Regions from separate parts of the Homo sapiens genome. Here region 2 is linked to region 1. Evidence: fine-mapped expression QTL. A gene starts in region 1. The other region holds a variant in brackets. All regions are shown on one strand. Distances are between the middles of the regions.

Region 1 (12,461 bases):
GACCCAAATTTAGGAAAAAAACAATTTAGTGAAGCAGTTACTTAGCAAATTTGCCTTTTGGGGAATTGACTTTTGAGATGTGTTATTTCCAGAGGAGTATGTATCCGGGATTCAGCAGTGATTTGCCAGCTGTGTGACCATGGATATGTTACAGAATCTCTTTGTGTCTCAGTTTCCTCCCTTACCTGAAAAATGGAGTTTTGGCCTGGAATTAGATATCAGGGGAAAAAAAAAAAAAAAAAAGAGTCACAGTAAACTTTCTCAACCCCAAACACAATGTGAGAATGAAATAATCCAACCCAAGTTCTCAGTAAGTGCTAAGAAATATTGGCTACTGTTAGTCCATCTCTTGATTGTTTTGAGGATAAAGGGATAATAAATATGAGAACACACTAAAAATGTGCTATGCAAGCCAAAGCGTTACTAACATTAAAATAAAACATAATGGCTGGGCACAGCGGCTCACGCCTGTAATCCCAACACTCTGGGATGCCGAGACAGGAGGATCACCTGACCCCAGGAGTTCCAGACCAACCTGGGCAACATAGCAAGACCCCATCTCTATTAGAAAAAAAATTTTTTTAATTTTAAAAAAAGATAAAAACATAACTATTCTGAGTATAGATGGCAAAATCCAGACTCCCTGCAGCTACTGGCTGAATCTGCCAGAATTGTTTGTTAAGCAAGCTCTGATGCTGGTTTCTGAACCTAGAGAAGACAGAAGCTACAAACACGCCACCATAGTCACAAACAAGGCAAAGAGGAAATAAAGACTGATTTCAGTTTACATTTTCAACGTTCCAAACTATGGTTCCTTGTTACACAATCCCATGACTATCTGTGCCATCTTGGCTAAACCTGAGCCAGGTCCCTTCAGCCAAGCAGACTCTAATAATAGCTGGCATCCTTGGAGTATGCTGCCTTCCAGCAAATCTGGTTTCGGACAATTTAACAATATGAGGTCAAGATGTAGGATGCGTGTGAGGGGAATCTCCCCTTTGTTGATGTTAATTGAAAATGGAAGTTACATTTCCATATCAGAAACATTTCAAAAGAACTCTTTGTCCAGGATGCTTGGCTAGCTAGGTGCTCAAGCAAGAAAGATCTACAACTCCAGGGCGGAAACTCTGTAAAGGCAGGGACATTCTGTATAGTTTATGCACTGCATAATTCCGGCACCCGGCCCAGAAGGTATTCAGTCAATATTTGCTGGATGAGTGCATGTAACATGAACATCAACAGCCCAGCCTGCTCTGCCTCGCCCTGCCAGCTTCATCTCATCATTCCCCTCAACTTAGATGACTTTTCTAAGTTCTTTCTTAGAAGACATTCACTTGTAATTCTCACTTGTAAAATTGTACTTGTTGAAATGCTGTTTTACGTAACAATCGCATGTGTCCTGTCTTCTGAACTAAACTATACACACTATGAGAGAAGGAACCACATCCTCTGAGGTGTGGTTTTGTGGCCTGGGAGACAACAGCAGTTGTCAGTGCTCACGAGTGGGCTATGGATGAGCAGAGGCCGCTTGGGTGGATGGACGGATGAACGATGGGCATGGGAGGGAAGGATGGAGGGATGGATGCTCCCTGGACCCAGTCCTGCTGTGTATCCCTACAAAGCTCACCTAACTCCACAGGCCCCCACCGATCACAGCAGGGCGGGGCCCCTCCTCACCATTTGCCCACAACACAATCCTGCAGCATCCTTGTAGTTTCTTCGCATCGTCCCCTAGCCATCTGGAAACTCACGGAGGCACTGCTCCTAAAGGGTTAAAATGGAAGCTTAACATTGCCTATTGTTCCTGGGAATCTAGAAACACAGGACAGGAGGTACCTGTTTAGACAAGATAGGGAAAGTCAGCATCTCCCTTTAGGCAAGAAACACAGCAGGAGAGCAGGTTTTTATTCATTGGGCCTTGAGGAACAGGGCAGGTGGAACAACTTCAACAACTATCTGAAGAAAGCGTGACTCGATCGGGGCAAAATCCACTGGTCCCACACACAGCCCTTCCCAATATTGCCAATGAGATCCCACGACCCACAACTGTGTCACACAGTTTAATGTGACGTGCATTCACTCCTAAATGTAATGTGATTTAAATAATTTTGTTCTGAGATTTGGAGTTGGTTGGTTGGTTTGAGACAGGGTCTTACTCTGTTGCCCAGGCTGAAGTGCAGTGGTGTGACAGCACCACCACACCCAGCTAATTTTTTAAAAATATATATTTTTTAGGCCGGAGCAGTGGCTCATGCCTATAATCCCAGCACTGTGGGAGGCTGAGGTGGGTGGATCACCTGAGGCCAGGAGTTCGAGACCAGCCTGGCCAACATGGTAAAACCCTGTCTCTACTAAAAGTACAAAAATTAGCCAGGCATGGTGGCACACACCTGTAGTCCCAGCTACTTGGGAGGCTGAGGCAGGAGAATTGCTTGAACCCGGGAGGCAGAGGTTGCAGTGAGCCAAGATCGCGCCACTGCACTCCAGCCTGGGCAACAGAGGAAGACTCCATCTCAAAAAAAAAAAAAAAAAAAAAAAAAATTTGTCTTAGATGTGGTGTCTTGCCGTGTTGCCCAGGCTGGTCTCAAACGTTTGGTCTTCAAGCAATCCTCCTGCCTTCATGCCAAAAGCACTAGGATTATCACACTCAGCCTGGGTTTGTTTTCTAGGACTTTTGCAACAGGCTTGAGATAATTTATAGAAGCCTCCCGGAGGCTATGTTCTCTATTTTTTTTTTTAATTTTTAAGCAGTAATAAATGGCAAAACTACAGGAGCAGTCAACTATGAAGACTGAGAAGCCTAGGAATGAAATTCAGTACTGATCAAGTAAAAGTTACTTCAGAGTTAATGACAGACACCAACGATACATCGATACTGCACCAAATGGTAACAGGTATGACAGAAATCAATCATCGGCCGCCCACACACACGAGTGGGAAGGTGACCTCACTGTCCCCAAATACAGAATGGCCTCACCTACCTCCTACCTTCTTCTCATGCTGTTCACCTCTCCCTTGGCTCAGCACCCCTTGCCAGTTCTCCCAAGGTCCTCTCTGCCAGTTGAAGGCTTCCCTGATCGCCATCCTCCTCAATCCCCCAGGACTCACAGGTTGAAAGAGTCGCAGCCAAGAGTTAGGGAACCTGACCATGAGCCAATCCCAGTGCTAAGCCCCTTGCACGTGTTAATTCAGTTAACTTAGCAACTGTACTAAGCCATGCACACAACTCTGTAGTATTATTATTATCATCGTCATCACTATCTGTGCCTCAGAACCCCTTGGCAAATCTTTAAATTCTCCCAGAAGTGTGTGTTTCCCAGTTTGAAGGGCCCTGCCTTCCTACAAACTGTGAAATTTGGCGGGGTGCTGCGGGGGAGGAACCCAAATCACAAAATAAACCTAGCAGAACTACCTGTACCATCGGTTCACTGTTGCTAGATGGCAGAGTGTGTGAAGTTCCTGGCCAATTGGAGAAGCAGATATTAAAGTTTTAAAGCAAGAAATTGCTTCAGTGGCATACAAGTCACTTGCCCAGAACACAAGCCCCTGGGTGGGAGCATGGTGGGTGGAACAGAGACTGGAAGAGGAAGAATGGAAGGGTGGGTGGGCCATCGAAGCCTCCCATGGAAGCCCCCTTCACATATTCTCCCCCTTTGATGGCTGCCCTGAAGAGTCAGCCCCCAAAAGCAGGCTTGCGGGACCCTCTTCCCAGAGGTCCAGACCAGATTCCTTTCAGTCTACTTACCCAAGTTGAAGTTCTCACAGGCTGGTAAATGCAGTGAGCTTATTTGCAAGCCAGGGTCATATCTGCCTAGCAACCCAACACGAAGACTTGAAGGACTATAAACGTGGACAGAGAACAGGCAGGCCAACTTTACACAAAGGAATCTGTTCTCATGCAAATGACCCTATGCAAGAGGGCTAAAAGAGGGAGCCTTGGGGACAGCTCTGAAGAGCCAACTTTTTCCCCAAGAAGATGTTGGGGGTCTTCTTAAGGGCATCATGATGGTCTTGCCCACTGTAAAGGAAAGCCGAGAGGGGGCTCTGCCTGCCACTTGGGATCAGGCAGACACAACAGGAGAGGCTAAGAGGGGAGCTGAGCCCTTCACTTGATTTCCTGATTTTTCTGGTCCTGTACTCCAGACTCCAAAGGTTCTTTTGTTCTTATTTAGAACTAAACAGAGTTAGTTTTGTTTGGGGGCAAGGGGGCGTTGATTAGCATGGCAATGCAGTGCTTTCTCTGGAGAAGTTAAAAAAGCAGGGGTTTTCACGCTTGGTCTCACTAGGATTGAGGGAACAAGGTGAAGCCAGCCTCTAACTAGGGTGGGCAAAAGTCATGTTGCGTGACTTTTTTGTGACTAGCAAGGCTGTGCGTAGGTTGGGTTTCCAGCTACCTCTCCATTATTCAAACACAGATGGCAAATGTCATCTTTGGATGAGCTCTAGTGGTAAAAAGTGCTAGTGTGTATCTATAAACATGGTGTAACCTTAGGTCAATCCCTCCAGTGCTCAGTGCCTCCACTTTCCTCATCTGTAAAATGGGAATAATGAGTGTCAACTACAGAAGGTTACTGATGCGGTTAACATTGCATTACATGTATGGCACTTAATGCAGTGTTGAGGACAAAGCAAACATTTAAAAAAGATTAATATTAATAAAATATAAGAATAGTAACACATTAGTAACAAAAATCTATTATTATTATTATTATTATTATTAGAATCATGCTCCCCAAAAGCCAGGTTTCACTTGCTCAAACATTCAGATGTGATTTTTCCAATCATTCATTCACTCCTGAGGATTTAGGTATAATTTGAGTCATTTTTTAAATCAAGAGACTGAAGTACAGAGATTTTATGTGACTTGCTTCGAGTCACTCAGGTATAAATGGCTGGCTGCACCTTTAGGTTCCTAAGACATACAGAATATGCTGTCATATTGCACATGATATTTCCATATAGAGTACAGTAACAGGTCCTAAGTATTAAAGTGTAAGATCCTAAATATCAAAGATTATCTTACAGGCAGCCCTGCATTAGCATGAAGTGTTCAAATCAGTTTCTAAATATCATTATATATGGATCCTTTGAAGAACAACTCAAAAAAGGGCTCTCTCTCACAGGGAGTGTGTTGGAGTCAGCAATTAATTGGCCTTGGTAAAGCATAAATCGTAACAGCAGCAAGAGCTAATGGGTACTGAGGCCTTACCAAATGCCAGTCACTGCGATCCGCACTTTACAAGTACCATAAATTAAACCCTCCAATTCTGGGAATACCACCTCCATCCCCATTTTACAGATCTGGAGAAATTAACGCTCTACGAGGTTAAATTACGCCTACAAGGTTGCAAAGCTGCTCAGCGGCCCCTTGGCTGTACACTACTGGCCATACAAGGCACCCTGTACCAACGAATCTTCTCCCCACTTACACAACCAGAACTTGTCAACGGCAAAGGATGGCATTTAACTCAGGAGAGCCTATCCCAAAATGGTGAGAGAACTCAGCGAGCAAGGAAGGATTTTTATTAAAATTCAGATCGCCGACTCCTCCCGGTGGCGACCCTCCGTGCATGCACTCCCAAACTAGGCTCTCTTGAGTTTCTGACATCAGAACCACATTCTCCGAACCCCAATGAAGGCAGCAGCCGGCGCCAAAGTCTGCATACGAATGCAAATAACATGGCCTTTGCTTCCGAGCAGTTTCCAAATTTGCCCTCGGGATGTGAGGTAGAGACCAAGAAGCTAAGTTTGCGCCCCCGCAGGCTCTGAAATGTCTAGGATCTGACACATGCTTTGTCCCCATGAGGAGCTCCTGAGATTTCGCGTGCATCATCCGCTTAGTTCACGGTGACCTTGGGGTCGGGGACTACGGGATGAGGGGCACGGACTGTCTAAACCTCCAGGTCCCTTACAGAGGGCTCCCCGCGGGTATGGGAGCCATGCACCTGTGCCGACGCCGCCACTGCCTGGAGGGTGCGCGCGCGCCCCGGGCCGGGGATGCTGACTCAGCCCGGCTGCTCACATTCCTTTCGCGCAACGCGGATGCTGTTGCTGCCGCTGCTGCCGGTGCAGCAAAGTGGGGGAAGCAAGGCACCCGCAGCGGCCCGGCCGCTCGCTCCCTGGGGCCCACTGCGACACTCCCTCCCCACTGCCGGAAGGGGAACTGTGGGGGTGCGCGAGTTGACGAAACTGGGGGAAGTGGGCGCTGCAGGAGGAACTCAGGCGCCGCGCGCGCAGCTCACACCCAAACTGGAAGGAACCTGTTCTGCCCGGGGCGGGCGCGAAGCCGCCGCAGCCGCGAGCGCCGCGCGGGATCAGCCCCGGCGCGCGCGTGTTCCCCCTCGCCGCTAAATCCCTAAATCCTCAGGGCGCGGGCGGGACTGGGCGGTGGGCGCGCCGGGAAGGCGCCCGGGGGTGGGGACGGGGACCCGCGCGCTCGCGCCTGGCCGAGGTGCTCCGAGACAGGATGCAGGCACCCCCAACACCCTGCACGCTCGCGCTCCTACTAGCGTTGCAGCAAAGCTCCGGGGTCTGGGCGGGTCACGCGCGCAGAGGCGCACCCGGGTTGGGAGATCGGGGCGTTGTGCCAAGGACCCCGGCGGCGCTGGCGGGGGCGGCCCGGCCCCGGACCGCGACGCGGTTACCTTTCGTGACCCCCAGCCCAGGCGGCAGGCTGGCGGGCGCGCGACCGGCGCGGCTCAGGTCCACGTGGGACGGCGCGCGCGCGCCAGGCAGGCCCCCTCCTTGGCTGCGCTCAGCGCTCGCAGCACATGGTCGGCGGCGGCGCGCCCCCGAGGCCGGCGGAGACCGGCTGCAGCCGGTATAGGATAAGAGCTAGGCAGCGACGCGGGGCCGGGGCGCGGGCGGCAGCACGCACGGCCCGGGTCGCAGGCGGCCGGGGTGGGGGGCGGGGGGAGGGTGTGGCTCGGGTGCCCGAGTCGCGGGAGTGGGTGGAGGGCCCGGGCGCTCGGGCCTCACCAGCCCGAGCCAACTTGCGCTAGAGTCGGGCCCGCCCCCTAAGGGGTTAATCCTTTTCTCATGTTACCGAGCGGCTTATAAGGAGGGGGAGGCCAAGCCTCCGCCTTATTGGGAGCCTTTGGGGGTTTATTCTCTTCCCTTCTAACTTGGTGAGTTGGTTTATTATTTTACATGTTTAAAAGTTTGATTGTGGGATGTGGGTTGTTTTTTAAAAAATATGTGTTGGGGCCTTTTTTTGTGATGGGAGGCGGAGGAGACCACTGAACATCTTCACATTTTGGAGAGGTTATTCCCAAAAATATTCGCTCTGACAGTTAGGAATGCCCAGGGCCACCGGGATGACGCGCTCGCGCCGGTGTGGGTAGCTGAGAGTTGAATGTCCGTGACCCTGGTACAGTTGGGTCCCGGAAGATACCTAAAGGCACGCCTGGCCTTTGAGTGCCCCCTGCCCCGGGTTGGGGGCTCCGGGACGTCGGAAGAGTCGGGGGCTCCAGGCTCAGCCCCTCCGCGGATTTTCCGCATGAAGTTGCCTGCGCGTCGCAGGAGCGAAATGTCAGAGGTACCTTCCTACCCCAGGCTGGCGCGCGCACGCAGGCCGGGCACTGAGGCAGCGCGAGGGAAAGTGGGGCTCCCTGCCTCCCCCGACCCCCAAACACAGCACTCCCTGCGGCGGCCACCGTTTGTCCCCAGCGGGAAGCCGGGGATTTCCCGGCAGAGCGCGGGTCCTCCACCTGGACTGTCAGAACTGTCAGCGGCTGACGGCCGGTCCCGCGCAACTTCAAGGTTCCCGGGCTGCCAACCGCAGGAAAGCGCTGGTGTCGCCAAGCAGTTCCGTAGCAAGGGAAGATGGTTTTGCAGAGGAAATGGGTTATTTCCTTCTAGGTTGTTGTCGTCTTTTCTTTTTATTCCCCCCACCCTAGCAAGACAGGTCATAGAAGTTTGTTAGGTGGCGTATATAAAATGTCACCAAACATGGGGGGCGTCAGTCTTAGAAAAAGCTCCCCGGAGCCAACTGGGGAAGAGCAATTACAACTTGTCAACCTGGAAGCCGGTTTTGTTTGCACGGTTAGACACTCCGTGCCAGCTCCTTCTCGCAGGAGATGGTTTCTACCCCGGGAATGAGATTTCTCAGTGATCTGATTGTTTTTGCAAATCATGGTAAGATAGGTGTCTTGCTTGTAAAAAAGATGCCAAGTGCTTATGCTGAAATCTCTAAACCATGCATCTCCCCATGTCCCAAGCACCGTTATGTGGCATTTTTGGGGTCAACAATACATCCGGCCAGATGATATAATAGAAACCCCTCTTCTCATAATTAAGGGAAGAGTGTCCAAAATAGGAACTTACAGTGTGTAAATAAACAATGCAGCCAAGTGGAAAAGCTCCTTCCAGTGTAATGAGTACCACTAACCCTGAGTTTTCCTTCTGTGGTTTCCGAAAAAGGACTTTCCTCAGTGGAACTCCTGAGGAGGACACTTAAATTAGGGGCTCAGGTTTCAACACCATAGTCTTGTAAAATGGTGACTCGGTTGTAGCCAGTGATTCAACATCGTGAGGCAGCTATCCAGGTTAGGTTTGGAAATTTTTTTTAAATAGAGAATGCAGATGAACTTTAGCCAAATACAGACTGGTTTTGACAACTTGGGCCAGAAACAACTTGTCAAAGCTGTTCTCCGGGCTACGCCTTTAAGAAGAAGAGAAATCCGCAGTGCTTTTGCTCGAGGTCTGCCTACAACAGTAGCCACCCCATTTCCATCCAGAGCCTGCGTTTTGAAACTTGCTCTTAGCTGACCCTGGAATAACACTCTGATGGTCTACAATAATACAATTTTTTTCATGCCCTCGGGCCAAATCTTCTCTCGACAAATTAAATCACAGTGAAACTCCCAAGGATAGCGGATTTCCAAGCCTTTGGCAAGATACCTACTTATTTATTTGTTTAGAGGCAGGGTCTCACTCCCATCATGGGAGTGCAGTAGCGTCATCTCTGCTCATTGCAGCCTCGACCTCCCGGGCTCAAGCGATCCTCCCACCTCATTTTTTAATTTTTTTGTAGAGACACAGCCTCACTATGTTGCCCGGGTTGGTCTCAAACTCCTGGGCTCAAGTAATCTGCCTGCTTCGGCCTCCCTAATTGCTGGGATTATAGGCATGAGCTACCGCACCCGGCCAATACTCATTTATTTAAGGGGACACTTAACCACATGCTACTAGGAAATCCTCCAAACTGCCCGTGGATTGTGTCATTGTACTTCCTCCAGAAGAACACTAGGGTGAAGGGAAGATGGCTGCCGGGAACCCCCATTCAGAATTGTCGAGTTTTGTAAGTTGGAAAAGGCTTGAGAGACTCCCCTGACAACCCATGCTTTACAGATGATAGAAGTTCTAGAAGTTCAGGATTCTGTGGTTTCCATAACTGTGCAGCCAGTTAATGGTACACAGAAATTAACAAATATGGCCTAAGAGCTTTAAGAAGACCAACTCTTCGGCCTTGCCTTCAAAGGGCTTAGAAGGATTAAAGCAAGTGACGGTCAAAGGCTGTCATAGAAGTATAGACTATTAGGGCAGGAAGAGATCTAAGCTCATCAGAGTCTAGTTCAACTCCCTTTTTTACATTTACCTTGATTTTACATTGACATTGAAAATGGGGAAGTGAAGTGATTTGCCTAAATTCCATCATCCGTAAAGCAGGGGTTGATGGGCAGGATGACTCAGCTCGCCTCACCAGTTAGATCCCTACACAGCTGAAAAATATCCCTACCCGTCAGATAAATTCACATGGCCACAGACCAAAGTGGACAGATAAACTTTTATATTCTGGAACTTACAGAGGCTTCTGCATAAATGAGTTCAAAATTCAGGCCTCAGTTGCTTTGTTTGCAGAGACAGAAGGTTTGGCCTTCTGCTGAAGGAATGGAAAAAAAGAAAAGGAGAAGGCCGGGCACAGTGGCTCACGCCTGTAATCCCAGCACTTTGGGAGGCTGAGGCGGGCGGATCACAAGGTCAGGAGTTTGAGACCAGTCTGACCAACATGGTGAAACCCTGTCTCTACTAAAAATACAAAAAAAAAATCAGCCGGGCGTGGTGGCATGCGCCTTTAATCCCAACTACTCAGGAGGCTGAGGCAGGAGAGTCGCTTGAACCCGGGAGGCAGAGCTTGCAGTGGGCTGAGATCGCACCACTGTGCTCCAGCCTGGGAGACAGACTGAGACTCCATCCCCAACCCCCAAAAAAAAAAAAAAAAGAAAGGAGGGAGGGAGGGGGAGAGAGAGAGAGAGAGAAAGAGAGAGAGAAGAGAAGAAGAGAAGAGAAAAGAAAAAAGGGAGAAGAGTCCAGGAAGGGTTTTATTCTGCAACCAAGCACTTTCTCCCCTTATGACTCGGTTTTTTAAGGAAAGACCTGTGCATGACTTTACTTAAATACAGGCATTATCACCCAGGAAGGTTCAGAAACCAGGTTATCCTGTTATTACTTTATATTGTGGTCTTATCTTCAAAGCTAAATTTAATAGGACATAGGATGCTTTAGGATGATAAAGGCATAAACCTTGGGGGTAGGACGGGGTTCAGGGTGTCATCTTTCCTTGATGGAGATCTCAGTTATAAAAAGAAAAGAAAGCTTCTGTCCAAAAACCCAAGAATGCAGGTGAAAGTTATATGTGGCTCTAGCTAGAGTAGAATAGCTCAGACATAAAGCAGAGTTTTTTAAAAAAACTAAGGAATTAACTTCCCAGCAGTGGCTCAGAAAGGAAATAGAAATGAATAGTCCACCATCTGGCTAGGTGAGGTGGCTCACACGTTTAATACTATCACTTTGGGAGGCCGAGGTGGGAGGATCGCTTGAGTCCGGGAGTTCCAGACCAGCCTAGGCAACATAGGGAGACCCTGTCTCTATTAAAAAAAAAAAGAAGAAGAAGAAGGCTGGGCATGCTGGCTCACGCGTGTAATCCCAGCACTATCGTTTAGATACTATCTAACGTTTAATACTATCACTTTGGGAGGCCAAAGCAGGCAGATCACCTGAGGTTAGGAGTTCAAGACCAGCCTGACCAACATGGTGAAACTCCATCTCTACTAAAACAAAATTAGCCGGGCATGGTGGCGCATGCCTGTAATCCCAGCTTCTTGGGAGGCTAAGGCAGGAGAATCACTTGAACCCGGGAGGTGGAGGTTGCAGTGAGCTGAGATTGTGCCATGGCACTCCAGCCTAGGCAACAAGAGCGAAACTCCATCTCCAAAAACAAAAACAAAAAGTCCACCATCTTCTAAACAGCTGTCATAGAATAGATCTAAGCAATGACCAGCTAGCTACTTTACACCCATGTTTGCAAGAACCATCTAGCATTTACACTTTCTCCGAGCTCAGTTTCCTTGGGCCACCAGGCTTCGCTTAAGCCATCAGTTGATTAATAGAATTCAGTACTAAATTCAAAAGTATCAGCTGTTTCTCACACCTGTAATCCCACACTTTGGGAGGCCAAGGCGGGCAGATCACTTGAGGTCAGGAGTTCGAGACCAGCCTAGCTAACATACTGAAACCTCATCTCTACTAAAAATACAAAAATCAACCGGGCATGATGGTGGGTGCCTGTAATCCCAGCTACTCGGGAGGCTGAGGCAGAAGAATCGCTTGAACCCGGGAGGCTAAGGTTGCAGTGAGCCAAGATCGTGCCACTGCACTTCAGCCTAGGTGACATAGCAAGACTCCATCTCAAAAAAATTAAATACAATAAAATGCTCTCCTGTAGGCTTGTACAGCAGGAGCCCTGGAAGGCAGGAGATTCAGTATTGGGCTATTTCAGTCAAGTCCCTTCACCTCTTGGGGATCAGTTTCCCGATTTTACAAAATGAGTAAGATTTTACAAAAAGGAATTGAAAAAGATAACCTCAATTTTCCCCTTCAGCTTTAACATTCAATAATTCTAACTCTATTCAGGGGTTACAGATTCATCCTAGCCCCATCCCTTTTGCAAGTGTAAACATCTGATGATACAGGCAAGGGAAGAGAGGAAAGGGGCAGCTGGCACCAGAACTTCAGTGCTGGCCAGACAGAGCCTTCTCATGATGGCAGGTAATCTCAGCTCATACAAAAACTGCAATCTGGTCCCACTCATCTAAATGCAACCCACAGCCCGGTCCACATGGTGAGACCCTGTCTCTACAAAAAATAAAAATTATGCCAGGCGCGGTGGCTCACATCTGTAATCCCAGCACTTTGGGAGGCCGAGGTGGGTGGATCACGAGGTCAGGAGTTCCAGACCGGCCTGGCCAACATGGTGAAACCCTGTCTCTACTAAAAATACAACAAATTAGCTGGGCATGGTGGCGGGCGTCTGTAATCCCAGCTACTTGGGAGGCTGACGCAAAGAATTGCTTGAACCTGGGGGATGGAGGTGGCAGTGAGCCGAAATCATGCCACTGCATTCCAGCCTGGACTCCATCTCAAAACATAAATTAAAAAAAAAAAAAATTGGCTGGGCATGG
Region 2 (12,461 bases), 21 kb before region 1:
CCTGTCCCACCATGCCGAGAGCTTACAAAGAGAAGTCAGGATGGGACCTCCCAAAGCTGGCCTCTAGGGGATAATGGTGAAGGTCAGAGGACAAGAGGATTTCTCTCCAGTGAGGGTCCTCCCAACCCTGAATCTGAGTTACTGTCAGGGTTAGGAATACAGCTGAAAAGGAATTACATGAAAGAGGAAGCGGCCTGCTCTCCCTAATATTGGTCTTGTTTAGACTGTCCTTTCTGCCCTCGTCCCCATACTGTCCACCAGATATCAAGACCTCATCACAATCCCCTGCAGTGTGACTGCCAACCTGGTTCGCATCTTCCATTAGGTTACTGCCAAATCCCCAAGGCAGCAGGGTGGCTGAGAAAAAGAGGTCTGAGAGGTAACAGGGTGCATGAACTCTTGCAAAAAGCCAATTCTGAGAACACAAATCAAGCCAAGTGTTCAACTAAATTGACAGCTCAATTCATTGCTCACTGAGGCCCGTTTTAGAAACAGCCTCAAGTCCCTGGGAGCCCCTGACCTTCCTGTGGCAAATATTGATCTTTGATTCCGAGCTAAGCCACTGCCCGTAACTCCTAGCAGCAGCAGCATTGACTTGACTCAAAATTAAACCAGGGGTAGAGAAGGGGGAAAGCAGAGAAGAAATGAGATCAAGGCGCAAAGTTAACATATTGCAAATCAACGTACATAAGTAAACATGATTACAGTGTGCTGTCACCTGCACCTCTGAGTCAGCCTGGCAGACAGTTCAAGCAAATGGGAAGTATCTGGGCTTCGCTGCCTGTGGCCACCTCTCTCTCACGATCACTGGGCATTCTCTGTCTCTCTCCCAAGAGACCTGTGAGTCATTACTGCCCAGGAGCTCAAATCCCCATTCAGAAATCCTAGGCCATTGCCTGAATCCAGCCACCCAGCCAGGAGTCATATGCAAGGCACTTCCCAGCCTGAGAATTTTCAAGAAATAATGTCACTTGTTTATCACAGGTGAAACCAGCACTGGCTTTCCCTGGGTCTGAGATGTGCTGCCAGCAAGAACCAAACTAGTGTTGTATCATCAGGGTTATTCACCGAGCTCTCAGAGTTATCTTAACTAATTTCAGACTGCATGAAGAGCTGGAAATGATGCCAACAGAATGCATTGGTCCTCTTCTCTTTTTTAAATCATGAGCAATTCATCCTCTGTCCCCTATTGTAATGCAAGTTGCTTTCATCTCCTGTTTTACTTGATTTTTTTTTTTTTTTCCAAGACAGAGTCTCGCTCTTGTCGCCCAGTCTGGAGTGCAAAGGCACAATCTCAGCTCACTGCAACCTCCACCTCCCGGGTTCAAGAGATTCTCCTGCCTCAGCCTCCCGAGTAGCTGGGATTACAGGCACCCGCCACCACGCCCGGCTAATTTTTGTATTTTTAGTAGAGACGGGGTTTCACCACATTGGCCAGGCTGGTCTTGAACTCCTGACCTCAGGTGATCCACCGGCCTTGGCCTCCCAAAGTGCTGGGATTACAGGCATGAGCTGCTGCGCCTGGCCAATTGCTTAACATTTTTAAGTTTTAGTTGATTACTAAGTCCCTGACATTTTCATTTAAATTTCATTTCAATTATCTTCTGGCTATCTTATCATTTTTAAACTGATAAGTGTTCAACAGCACAGCCCAGCTCAGATCTACAAAGGACATTGGCAAAATGACATCCCACAAGGTCAACGGCAAAATAGGTTGGCTGCTTAACCTACTGACATGTGCGAGGGGACTTGGGGCCTTGCGGTGCATACATGAGCAATCTCTCAACACTGGGGGCCCTAAACGACAACGCCCTCTGATAAAGAGATGTTTGCTGATTTGCAGTAGCTTTGGGTTTTTCACATACAAAAAAAAAAAAACAAAACAGTTCATCATTATTTTTCATGTAGTCAATCTTTGAGCTAGCAAACCCACAAACCACATAATCGACCCCCACATGGCAGAGAGCTGATTATAACAGTAAAAACACTTCGTCTCTCTCGGCCTCAGTTTCTCCCAAAGGGATATGGTGACATGAATGCTCTTTGACCTGGGCTACTGTAAATGGGCTTAAGGCTGTGGGATTTTAGGCCATAATCCCTATTTTATCTCCATGTAAATAGAGTTTAGAAGTCTGAAAAGGGATACCAAAATATGAAGTCACCGAAAGATTCTGCTTTTCTTCCCCCAGATTCCTTTCTTCCTTTAACAAATAACGACATCATAATTGTGGTACGGATGGTGCCCTTTCTGTGCAAAAATGGGCAAATCACATCTCCTGCAACCAGGTTAAAAACAAACAAAAAACGAATCGTGTGCGCTGGCCACAAACTAAAAGGGAAATGTTACTGAGACCTTTAGGTGTTGACTTGGGGATTTGGTCTAGGAATGAGAAGAAACAAGCAGATTCTAAGAAGCCAGATGAGTCCTACAGCTCAACCTGGGGAAGGGTGAGAGTCTGGGAATAGATAGAGCAAGGTGCTTTTGGAACAGACGCTGAGAAAACAGGCCTCACCCTCCAGCCAGAGGAGGGAATTGTGACGAACAGGGGAGCAGGGCCGGTGTCATAGGGAATCATAAGAGCTAGCACCCATCAAGCACCAATACATGCCAGGGACCCTTTTGCTGCCTTATATGACCTAACTTATTTCCTCCTCACCATAGCCCTGTGATGTAGGTGCCATTATTTTCCCATTGCAGAGATAAGCATACTAAGGTCCAGCAAGGTTTAATAACTAGCACAGTGTCCCAGAGCTAGCAAGTAACAGACCAAGGCAGTCTAGTTCCAGCTCTCATGCTCGGGTCAACCCATGTGTGCACACCTAGAAGTTTAGATCCAGGAATCCAAGTACGTGAACAATTATTGTTTGAGCACCTACCATGTGCCAGGCATTGTTTTAGCCACTGAAGACATAAATAAGACAGATAAGGAGGCTGCTGTAAGGAGGCAATATTCCAGTGGGAGAGACAGGCAACAAAGAAGTAAACAAAGAAGATCATTTCAACAGTGATACAGGTCATGGAAACAGAACAGGAGAATGGGTAGGAGATGTGCATGGGGTAGGAAGGCAATGTTGGAGAGCACGGTCAGGAAAGGCCTCTCTGAGGACATGGTATTTGAGTGGAGGCCAGAAGGATGAGAAGCGATCAGCTGCTTGAAGCCTGAGGAGAGACCTCGCCAATAAGAGGCAACAGCCAGTGCAAAGGCCCTGAGGCAGGGAAAAGCATATGTTCAAGGAACAGAAACATGTGCAATGTGAGGAACATGAGGAGAGGGTTGGAGATGAAGCTGGAGTAGGCAGGATAAGATTGCAGGCACCTGAAACTGCAGCCATCACACATCCCTGGCTGGGTGAGCCTCCTGAACGATGGTTGCATCAACCATTTTGATGACTGACATCTAAATCCCATTTCTGCCTGGGTGCCACCCACGCACTTTGTAATCCCAGCACTTTGGGAGGCCGAGGCAGGTGGATCACCTGAGGTCGAGTTCAAGATCAGCCTGGCCAACATGGTGAAATGCTGTCTCTACTAAAAATACAAAAATTAGCCAGGTATGGTGGCACACACTTGTAGTCCCAGCTACTCGAGAGGTTAAGGCAGGAGAATCACTTGAACCTGGGAGGCAGAGGTTATAGTGAGCCAAGATCGCGCCACTGCACTCCAGCCTAGGCGATAGAGCAAGACTTCATCTTAAAATAAATAACTAAATACAATCCCATTTCTCAGGTTGCCTCTTATGCTTGGACAGCACAAAAATCCTTCATTAGCACCAAAGGGAGAAAAAAAATGATGAGATTCCAATCTCCTTTTTTTTTTGAGACAGGATTTCACTCCATCACCCAGGCTGGAGTGCAGTGACACGATCATAGCTCACTGTGGCCTCAACCTCCTGGGCTCAAGCAATCCTCCTGACTCCGCCTCCGGAGTAGGTAGGACCACGCCCAGCTAATTTATTGATTTTTTTGTAGAGATGAAGTCTTGCTATGTTGCCCAGGCTGCTCTCAAACTCCTGAGCTCAAGCAATCCTTCCGCCTCGATCTCCCAAAGTACTGGAATTACAGATGTGAACCACCACGCCTGGCCTCCTGCTCTTTGACAGCCATATGGGAAAGCTGGCCAAATCTTGATGGATTCTCTTTGCTGATTCCCCAGTTCTGCCCAGCCCTGAAAGAATAAGGCTCTAGAATGAGGAAATCTGAGTTTGAATATTGGCTTGGCCACTCACCAACTCTGGGCGTGTTACTTAACCTCAATTTCCTCATCTGAGATATAAGAGAAAAGTAGGGTGGTACCAAGAATTAGCCAGGGTAATGCCTAGAGCCTGGCACCTTGCAAGAGCTTGGTAAGGGTTAGTGATTGTTGCAGCTGTTGTGTTGATTCAAATAAAGGTGTTGGCCCCAATGCACAGCCAGCATAGGGATTAACAGGAATTTGTCACTGGAACTCCACCTCATCCTTCCAAGTTTTGTCACTGGACCTTTTATCATGCAGATTAGCCAATTCACACTGACATTCCATTTGGACATTTCTAGTAACAATAACAAAAATAACCATAGCTAACATAGAACCCTATCTATTGTATGCTAGGCTCTATGCTAACTGATTACACAGATTACTTAATTTTTTATTTTTTATTTTTTTTATGAGACACTCTGTTGTCCAGGCTGGAGTACAATGGCATGATCATAGCTCACTGCAGCCTTGAACTCCTGGCATTAAGGGATCCGTGTGCTTCAGCCTCTGGAGTAGCTGGGACCACAGATGTGCAACACCACACCTGGTTTACAGATTACTTAATTTTTTTTTTTTTTTTTTTTGAGATGGAGTCTTGCTCTGTTGCCCAGGCTGGAGTACAATGGCGCAATCTCAGCTCACTGCAACTTCCGCCTCCCGGGTTCAAATGATTCTCCCGCCTCAGCCTCCCGAGTAGCTGGGATTACAAGCATGTGCCGCCACGCCTGGCTACTTTTGTATTTTTAGTAGAGATGGGGTTTCTTCTTGTTGGTCAGGCTGGTCTCAAACTCCTGACCTCAGGTGATCCATCTGCCTCGGCCTCCCAAAGTGCTGGGATTACAGGTGTGAGCCACTGTGCCCGGCCCAGATTACTTAATTTAACCCTCACAACATCCTGTGAGGTAGAGGTGCTATCATTGTCCCCACTTACAGAAGAGGAAAGCAAAACTCCAGGGGATGATGCAGTTTGCCCGGGGCCACAGATAGGAAGTGGCAGAGCTGGGATTTGAGCTCAAACTGTCTGGCTCCTGCCCTCTTAAGCATGACATTTAGTCTTTAATGCGACAGATACTGACTGACCACCTACTACATTATAGACTGCGTTAGAAGCGGAGTAAAAAGAGATATGTAGGCCAGGCATGGTGGCTCACGCTTGTAATCCCAGCACTTTGGGAGGCCAAGGCAGGTGAATCACTTGAGGTCAGGAGTTCAAGACCAGCCTGGCCAACATGGCAAAACTCCGTCTCTACTAAAAATACAAAAATCAGCCGTGCGTAGTGGCAGGTGCCTGTAATTCCAGCTACTCAGAAGGCCGAGGCAGGAGAATCGCTTGAACCCGGAGGCGGAGGTTGCAGTGAGCCAAGATTGCACCACTGCACTCCAGCCTGGGCAACAGAGTGAAACTGTGTCTCAAAAAAAAAAAAAAGAGAGAGAGAGAGATACGTAATACAGCTAATTGCACCAGACTGAACAGCGTTCCCCTCAATTTCATATCAATCCAGAACCTGTGACGTGACCTTATTTGGAGATAGCGTCTTCGCAGATGTCATTAAGTTAAGATGAGGTCATACTGGAGTAGGGTGGGCCTTCAATCCAAAGACTGGTATTTTTATTAGAGGAGGGGAGTCTGGACACTGGCATGAAAGAACGCCTCATAACAACTGAGGCGGAGATAGGAGTCTAGAAGCCCAGAATGCCAAGGATTCCAGCAGGCACCAGAATCCAGGAGAGAGGCAAGGAATGGATTCTCTGTCAGAGCCTTCAGTCATAACCTTGATTTTGGACTTCTGGCTCTCCGAACTGTGAAAGGACAAAGTAATGTTTTTTTGTTTTTATTTTTGTTTTTTTTGAGATGGAGTCTCACTCTGTCACCCAGGCTGGAGTGCAGTGGCGCAATCTCGGCTCACTGCAATCTCTGCCTCCCGGGTTCACGCCATTCTCCTGCCTCAGCCTCCTGAGTAGCTGGGACTACAGGCACCTGCCACCATGCCCGGCTAATTTTTTGTATTTTTAGTAGTGACAGCGTTTCACCACGTTAGCCAGGATGGTCTTGATCTCCTGACCTCGTGATCTGCCCGCCTCGGCCTCCCAAAGTGCTGGGATTACAGGTGTGAGCCACTGTGCCTGGCCAGAACAAAGTAACATTTTAAGCTGTCCAGTTTGGAGTAATTTGTTCCAGCAGTCCTAGAAAATTCATGCACAAATAAAAAGGAGGCAACAGAACCGGGCGTGGTGGCTTGAGCGTGCAGTCCCAGCTAGTCACCCCAGACCCTGTTGGGCAATAAGAGTTCGTGTCTGAAAGTCATGGTTCCCCACTGGCCGTGAGTAGGCAGTGGGAGAAACCAGCGATGAATCAGTTCATGGCCTCACAGGAAGCCCGGCTTTCCTGTCAACAAAGAAGAATGAAAAGCCGTCGACCTCAGGCCAGAGGGCTAGCCACCTGGCCACTGTCACAAGGCTCAGATGGAAAGAAACACTTTCATAAGGGGGTGGGGAGAAGGAGAGCCCAACGAACCACATTTGGCATCTGACCCCTGAGTCCTCCTTTCTGCTCAGGATGAGAGTGTGACAGTAGAGACAGCACATGAGAAAAAAAAAACGTGTAGGCCTCGCAAATCTCAGCTTAAATAATGGGACTAATATTTCCCCGCTAACCTGCTAAACACTGAAAGCGGAAGTTCCTAAGCATTTGGCAACCCACGCCCTTTGGAGAATCTGGTAAATGTTCATGAATGGATGAACTCTCTCCCCAGAAAAGTATTCCTACATGCAAAATTTGGGGTGACATTCCAGGGCATCTTGAGCTCCTAGAGCCCATTTATTGATGAACAAATATTTATTAATTGCCCACTACGTACCAAGCACTGTGTTACATGCTAGGAATATAAGCGGGAAAGAACAGATGAGGCATTTTTCTTCCTGAAGTCCAGAGCTAGGAGGGAGGTGTGTAAGTTTTCTGTGGCTGCCATAACAAATTACCACAAGCTGTGTGGCTTAAAACAACAGTACAGGCCAGGCGTGGTGGCTCAGACCTGTAATCGCAGCACTTTGGGAGGCCAAGGCGAGTGGATCACTTGAGGTCAGGGGTTCGAGAGTAGCCTAGCCAACATGGTGAAACCCCATCTCTACAAAAATACAAAAATTAGCCAGGCATGGCAGCAGATGCTTGTAATCCCAGCTACTTGGGAGGCTGAGGCTGGAGAATCGCTTGAACCTGGGAGGTGGAGGTTGCAGTGAGCCAAGATCGCACTACTGCACTCCAACCTGGGCGACAGAGCAAGACTCCGTCAAAAAAAAAAAAAAAAAAAA[G/AG]TACAGTACAGGAGGCTAAAAGTCTGAAATCAAGATGTCGGCCGGGCTGGTACCTTCTGGAGGCTCTGAGGGAGAATCTGTTCCATGCCTCTCTCCTTGTTCTGCTGGTTGCCAGCGGTCCTTGGTGTTCCTGGCTTGTAGAGGCATGGCTCCAATCTCTGCCTCCATCTTCACGTCACCATCTCTCTCTGTGTGTCCCTGTGTCTTCTCCTCTTCTTATAAGGAAATGTCACTGGATTTAGGACCCACCCTAAATCGATTCTGAGATCATCGAGAGCCTTAATTAATAACATTTGCAAAGACCCTGTTTCCAAATATGGTCACATTCTGAGGTTCTAGATGGACATGAATTTAGGGAGGATGCTATTCAACCCAATGTAGTGGTCAGATGATTGAACAGCCACCACAGAAAGCAGCAAGGACCATCACAGAACACCCGAGGCATCCACGAAAGCTTTCCTGAGGCCCTCGTGTACAACTGAGACCTAAGTAGTGAGTAGAAACTAATTAAACAGAGGAAGTGGAGAGTGCACCAGGATGAACCCATCACACAGATGAAGGGAGGGCTCATCCAAAGACCACTGCAAGAGAGAAGAGTGGAGAAGAAATCAGTTTGGGGTTTTGTTGGTTTTGTTTGTTTGTTTTGAGACAGAGTCTCAGTCTGTTGCCCGGGCTGGAGTGCAGCAGTGCAATCTCAGATCACTGCAACCTCTGTCTCCCAGGTTCTCCCGTGCACCGCCACATCTGGCTAATTTTTGCATTTTCAGTAGAGATGGGATTTCGCCATGTTGGCCAGGCTGGTCTTGAACTCCTGTCAAGTGATGTGCCCACCTTGGCCTCCTAAAGTGCTGGAATTACAGGCGTGAGCCACCACACCCAGCCAAACTCCAGTTTGTTAGCTGTGGTATGGGGTATGGGTTTTATCCTTAGGGCTAAAAAATGTCTTTGAAGGACTGGAAGCAGAAGAGTGTTTCTACAAAGTTCACCTTGATGGAGGTGAGGAAGAACTGGAGTGGGTGAGACCAGATGCAGAAACTACCACCCACCAAGGGCGCGTATCTCAGGAAAAGCATCAAGCTCTAGGATGCAAGTGGCCAAAACTCTGTGGAGATGCCCTATGCGTCATCCTAAGCGGTGAGCTGAAATGATTCCCCCCGAACCACATGGAGGAGTTTCGCCCAGTGCAGACAGAATCCGAGCTGGACAATCAGACCAATGTTAGCCCAAGAAGAAAATCCTGAAGTCTGAAAGCTCTAACGCTTGTTCTCCATCTAAGAAGGGAAAGGAGCTGGGTGTTTTAACAAAAATCTGCAATAGCTGTTTTCTAAACACTTCAACTCATCAGATGCATAGGCTCCTCTTTTGTGGTCCCTTAGAGTTCAGTATGCCTTAAGTGTAAGCCACGCCTTTCATAAATAAGTGAGTCACATCTCCCACGCCTCACAGACTCTCTTTTGCTCTTCAAAGGCCATCTCCTCCCTTGAAACCCCAGGTTGGGTTCCACACCCTCGCTTCTGTTCTCCAAAAACTCTGGATGTTGGGGCTGGGTGTGGTGGCTCACGCTTGTAATCCCAGCATTTTGGGAGGCCGAGACGGGCGGATCACCTGAGGTTGGGAGTTTGAGACCAGACTAACCAACATGGAGAAACCCGATCTCTGGGGTTTCTCCCCAGGTGGCACACACCTGTAATCCCAGCTACTCGGGAGGCTGAGGCAGGAGAATCGCTTGAACCCGGGAGATGGAGGTTGCAGTGAGCTGAGATCGTGCCACTGCACGCCAACCTGGGCAACAAGAGCGGAACTCCATCTCAAAAAAAAAACACAACAAAACAAACAAACAAACAAAAAACTCTGGATGTGGGCTCAGAAGCTATTTGCTTATAATTCTTATTTCCCTTTCTTTCTTTATTTATTTACTTTTTTATTTTATTTATTTTTTTTTAGACAGAGTCTCACTCTTATTGCCCAGGCTGGAGTGCAGTGGTGCGATCTCAGCTCACTGCAACCTCTGCCTCCCAGGTTCAAGTGATTCTCCTGCCTCAGCCTCCCGAGTAGCTGGGGTCACAGGTGCCTGCCACTGCGCCCGGCTACATTTTGTATTTTTAGTAGAGAGAGGGTTTCGGCAGGTTGGCCAGGCTAGTCTCGAACTCTTGACCTCAGGTGATCCACCTGCCTCAGCCTCCCAAAGTGCTACAGGCGTGAGCCACTGCACCCAGCCTATTTACTTATTTTTTAAGAGACAGAGTCTCGCTCTGTGACCCACACTGGAGTGCAGTGGCACAATCATAGCTCACTGCAACCTTGAACTCCTGGGCTCCAGTGATCCTCCTGAGAGGTGACAGCGTGCTGGCAGTCCTCACAGCCCTCGCTCGCTCTCGGCGCCTCCTCTGCCTGGGCTCCCACTTTGGTGGCACTTGAGCCCTTCAGCCCACCGCTGCACTGTAGGATCCCCTTTCTAGGCTGGCCAAGGCGAGAGCCGGCTCCCTCGGCTTGCAGGGAGGTGTGGAGGGAGAGGCGCGAGCGGGAACTGGGGCTGCGTGCTGCGCTTGTGGGCCAGCTGGAGTTCCGGGTGGGCGTGGGCTTGGCGGGCCCCGCACTCGGAGCAGCCAGCTGGCCCTGCGGGCCCCGGGCAATGAGGGGCTTAGAACCCGGGCCAGCAGCTGCGGAGGGTGTACTAGGTCCCTCAGCAGGGCCAGCCCACCAGCACTGCACTCGATTTCTCACCGAGCCTTAGCTGCCTTCCTGTGGGGCAGGGCTCGGGACCTGCAGCCCGCCATGCCTGAGCCTCCCACCCCCTCCGTGGGCTCCTGTGCGGCCCGAGCCTCCTCGAGCACCACCCCCTGCTCCACAGCGCCCAGTCCCATCGACCACCCAAAGGCTGAGGAGTGCAGGCGCAGGGCGCGGGACTGGCAGGCAGCTCCACCTGCAGCGCCGGTGCGGGATCCACTGGGTGAAGCCAGCTGGGCTCCTGAGTCTGGTGGGGCCTTGGAGAACCTTTATGTCTAGCTCAGGGATTGTAAATACACCAATCGGCACTCTGTATCTAGCTCAAGGTTTGTAAACACACCAATCAGCACCCTGTCAAAACAGGCCACTCAGCTCTACCAATCAGCAGGATGTGGGTGGGGCCAGATAAGAGAATAAAAGCAGGCTGCCCGAGCCAGCAGTGGCAACCCGCTCAGGTCCCTTTCCACACTGTGGAAGCTTTGTTCTTTCGCTCTCTGCAATAAATCTTGCTACTGCTCACTCTTTGGGTCCACACTGCTTTTATGAGCTGTAACACTCACCATGAAGGTCTGCAGCTTCACTCCTGAAGCCAGCGAGACCACGAGCCCACCGGGAGGAACGAACAACTCCAGACGCACCGCCTTAAGAACTGTAACACTCACCGTGAAGGTCTGCAGCTTCACTCCTGAGCCAGTGAGACCATGAACCCACCAGAAGGAAGAAACTCCGAACACATCTGAACATCAGAAGGAACAAACTCCAGACGTGCCACCTTAAGAGCTGTAACACTCACCGCGAGGGTTTGCAGCTTCATTCTTGAAGTCAGTGAGACCAAGAACCCACCAATTCCAGACACACTCCCACTTCAGCCTCCCGAGTAGCTGAGACCACAGGAGCGTGCCACCACCGCTAGCTAATTTGCTTTTATTTTTTGTAGAAGTGGGATCTTGCCAGGTTGCCCAAGCTGGTCCCAAAATCATGGGCTCAGGTGAACCTCCCACCTGAGTCTCCCAAAGCATTGGGATTACAGCCATGAGCCACTGTACCTAGCCCCTTACTTTCCTTTTAACCTGTCTTCTCTACCAGACAATGAATAACTTGAGGGCAAAAATGTTTTATCTTGTTCACCTCTGTATTCCTAGCTCCTAACACATAATGAATGTTACTAGATAGATGGATGGGTGCTAGATGGCTGGATTTCTTCACGATGCTATGCTGGCTTCAAACCAAATTAATTAATAAATTAACTAAATCAGCATGGGTCCATCAATGACTCTTTAAGTGCTTTGCACGGCCCCTTCCCCTCTCAAGAACGGGAGTAAGACATCCAAAGAAAGGCTGGCCTGGCATCTCAAGACTCACCTCATTCCCTCCGAAGCCATCTTATCAAGGTTGGCAGTGTCCTTTGTTTCTGCCCAGTTTGCTCCCAGGTCACCCCACCCCATGTCATCGGCCAAAATAATCACAAAGTTTGGCTTCTGTCCTCTTGTTTTCCCACTGATGCAAAAATCCACAAGAGGATAAAGAAATCCTGAGAAACTCACTCCCGCCAACAAAACCTTTAGAAAAAGCCAGCCCATGGTGGTGAAGGCAGGATTCCGATTGTCTGGAGCGACGGCAGCCACCACTAGAGATTTTTCTGAGAGCTTCCTTTCTGCTCACTTTCAAAGCAGGAAGTCTCTGGGGAGCAGGGGTGGAATCTGCAAGAAGATGCTGGTGGCAGTGGTGATGGCAGTGATAACGGCTATAGGAATGTTGGGGGCTGTAGAAATGAGGCCCCCATCTGGAATCCTAATTCAAAAGAATCAGGAAATTTGCAATCCCTCATTTGGCTTGATCTTCTATGGTCAGTGTTTCCTCACCGCAGCTCAGTAAAATGACTGGTCGTGTTCAATAATTAGACATCAATGTCAACAACTGCTCTTTGGCCACTAAGAAAGTGACCCTTCTGTATTCAGGGCCTCAGAGCCACAGCACAGGCCTTACATCTGCTTGGCTGTTTGGGACTCCATCTGGTGACTACAGGATGAGTTCTCGCATCTGCAGAACACCTGGATGTTCTAGAAGCCGCCGTCAGCCCCGAATAACTGAGTAGCAGATGGTTGAGGGCTTCATGTTTCTGTAAGGTTTCCTGAAAGAACAAAAATTGACAAGAAAACAGAGTTAAAACTGCCAGTGCAGCTGTGTTTTA

What was found. PIP is the estimated chance that this variant, and not a neighbour inherited with it, causes the effect.
Region 2: its variant is fine-mapped to the expression of ARSG in whole blood (INTERVAL, PIP 0.92).

The regions. Positions count from the first base shown.
Region 1 is chr17:68,285,752-68,298,212 of GRCh38, reverse strand. ARSG (arylsulfatase G) reads right to left here and starts at 6,718. Exons shown (of 12, transcript NM_001267727.2): 1 at 6,645-6,718. It overlaps SLC16A6 (solute carrier family 16 member 6), which reads left to right and starts at 7,086. Exons shown (of 6, transcript NM_004694.5): 1 at 7,086-7,127. RefSeq lists an enhancer at 5,631-5,860 and silencers at 6,720-6,894, 6,261-6,950.
Region 2 is chr17:68,306,883-68,319,343 of GRCh38, reverse strand. It overlaps ARSG (arylsulfatase G), which reads right to left. Exons shown (of 12, transcript NM_001267727.2): 2 at 11,633-12,401. The coding sequence starts at 11,850. Among named protein-coding and RNA genes, the nearest start is that of ARSG, 22 kb to the right of the region's middle. RefSeq lists a silencer at 482-776. The variant G/AG (reference allele first, on the strand shown) is at 7,544.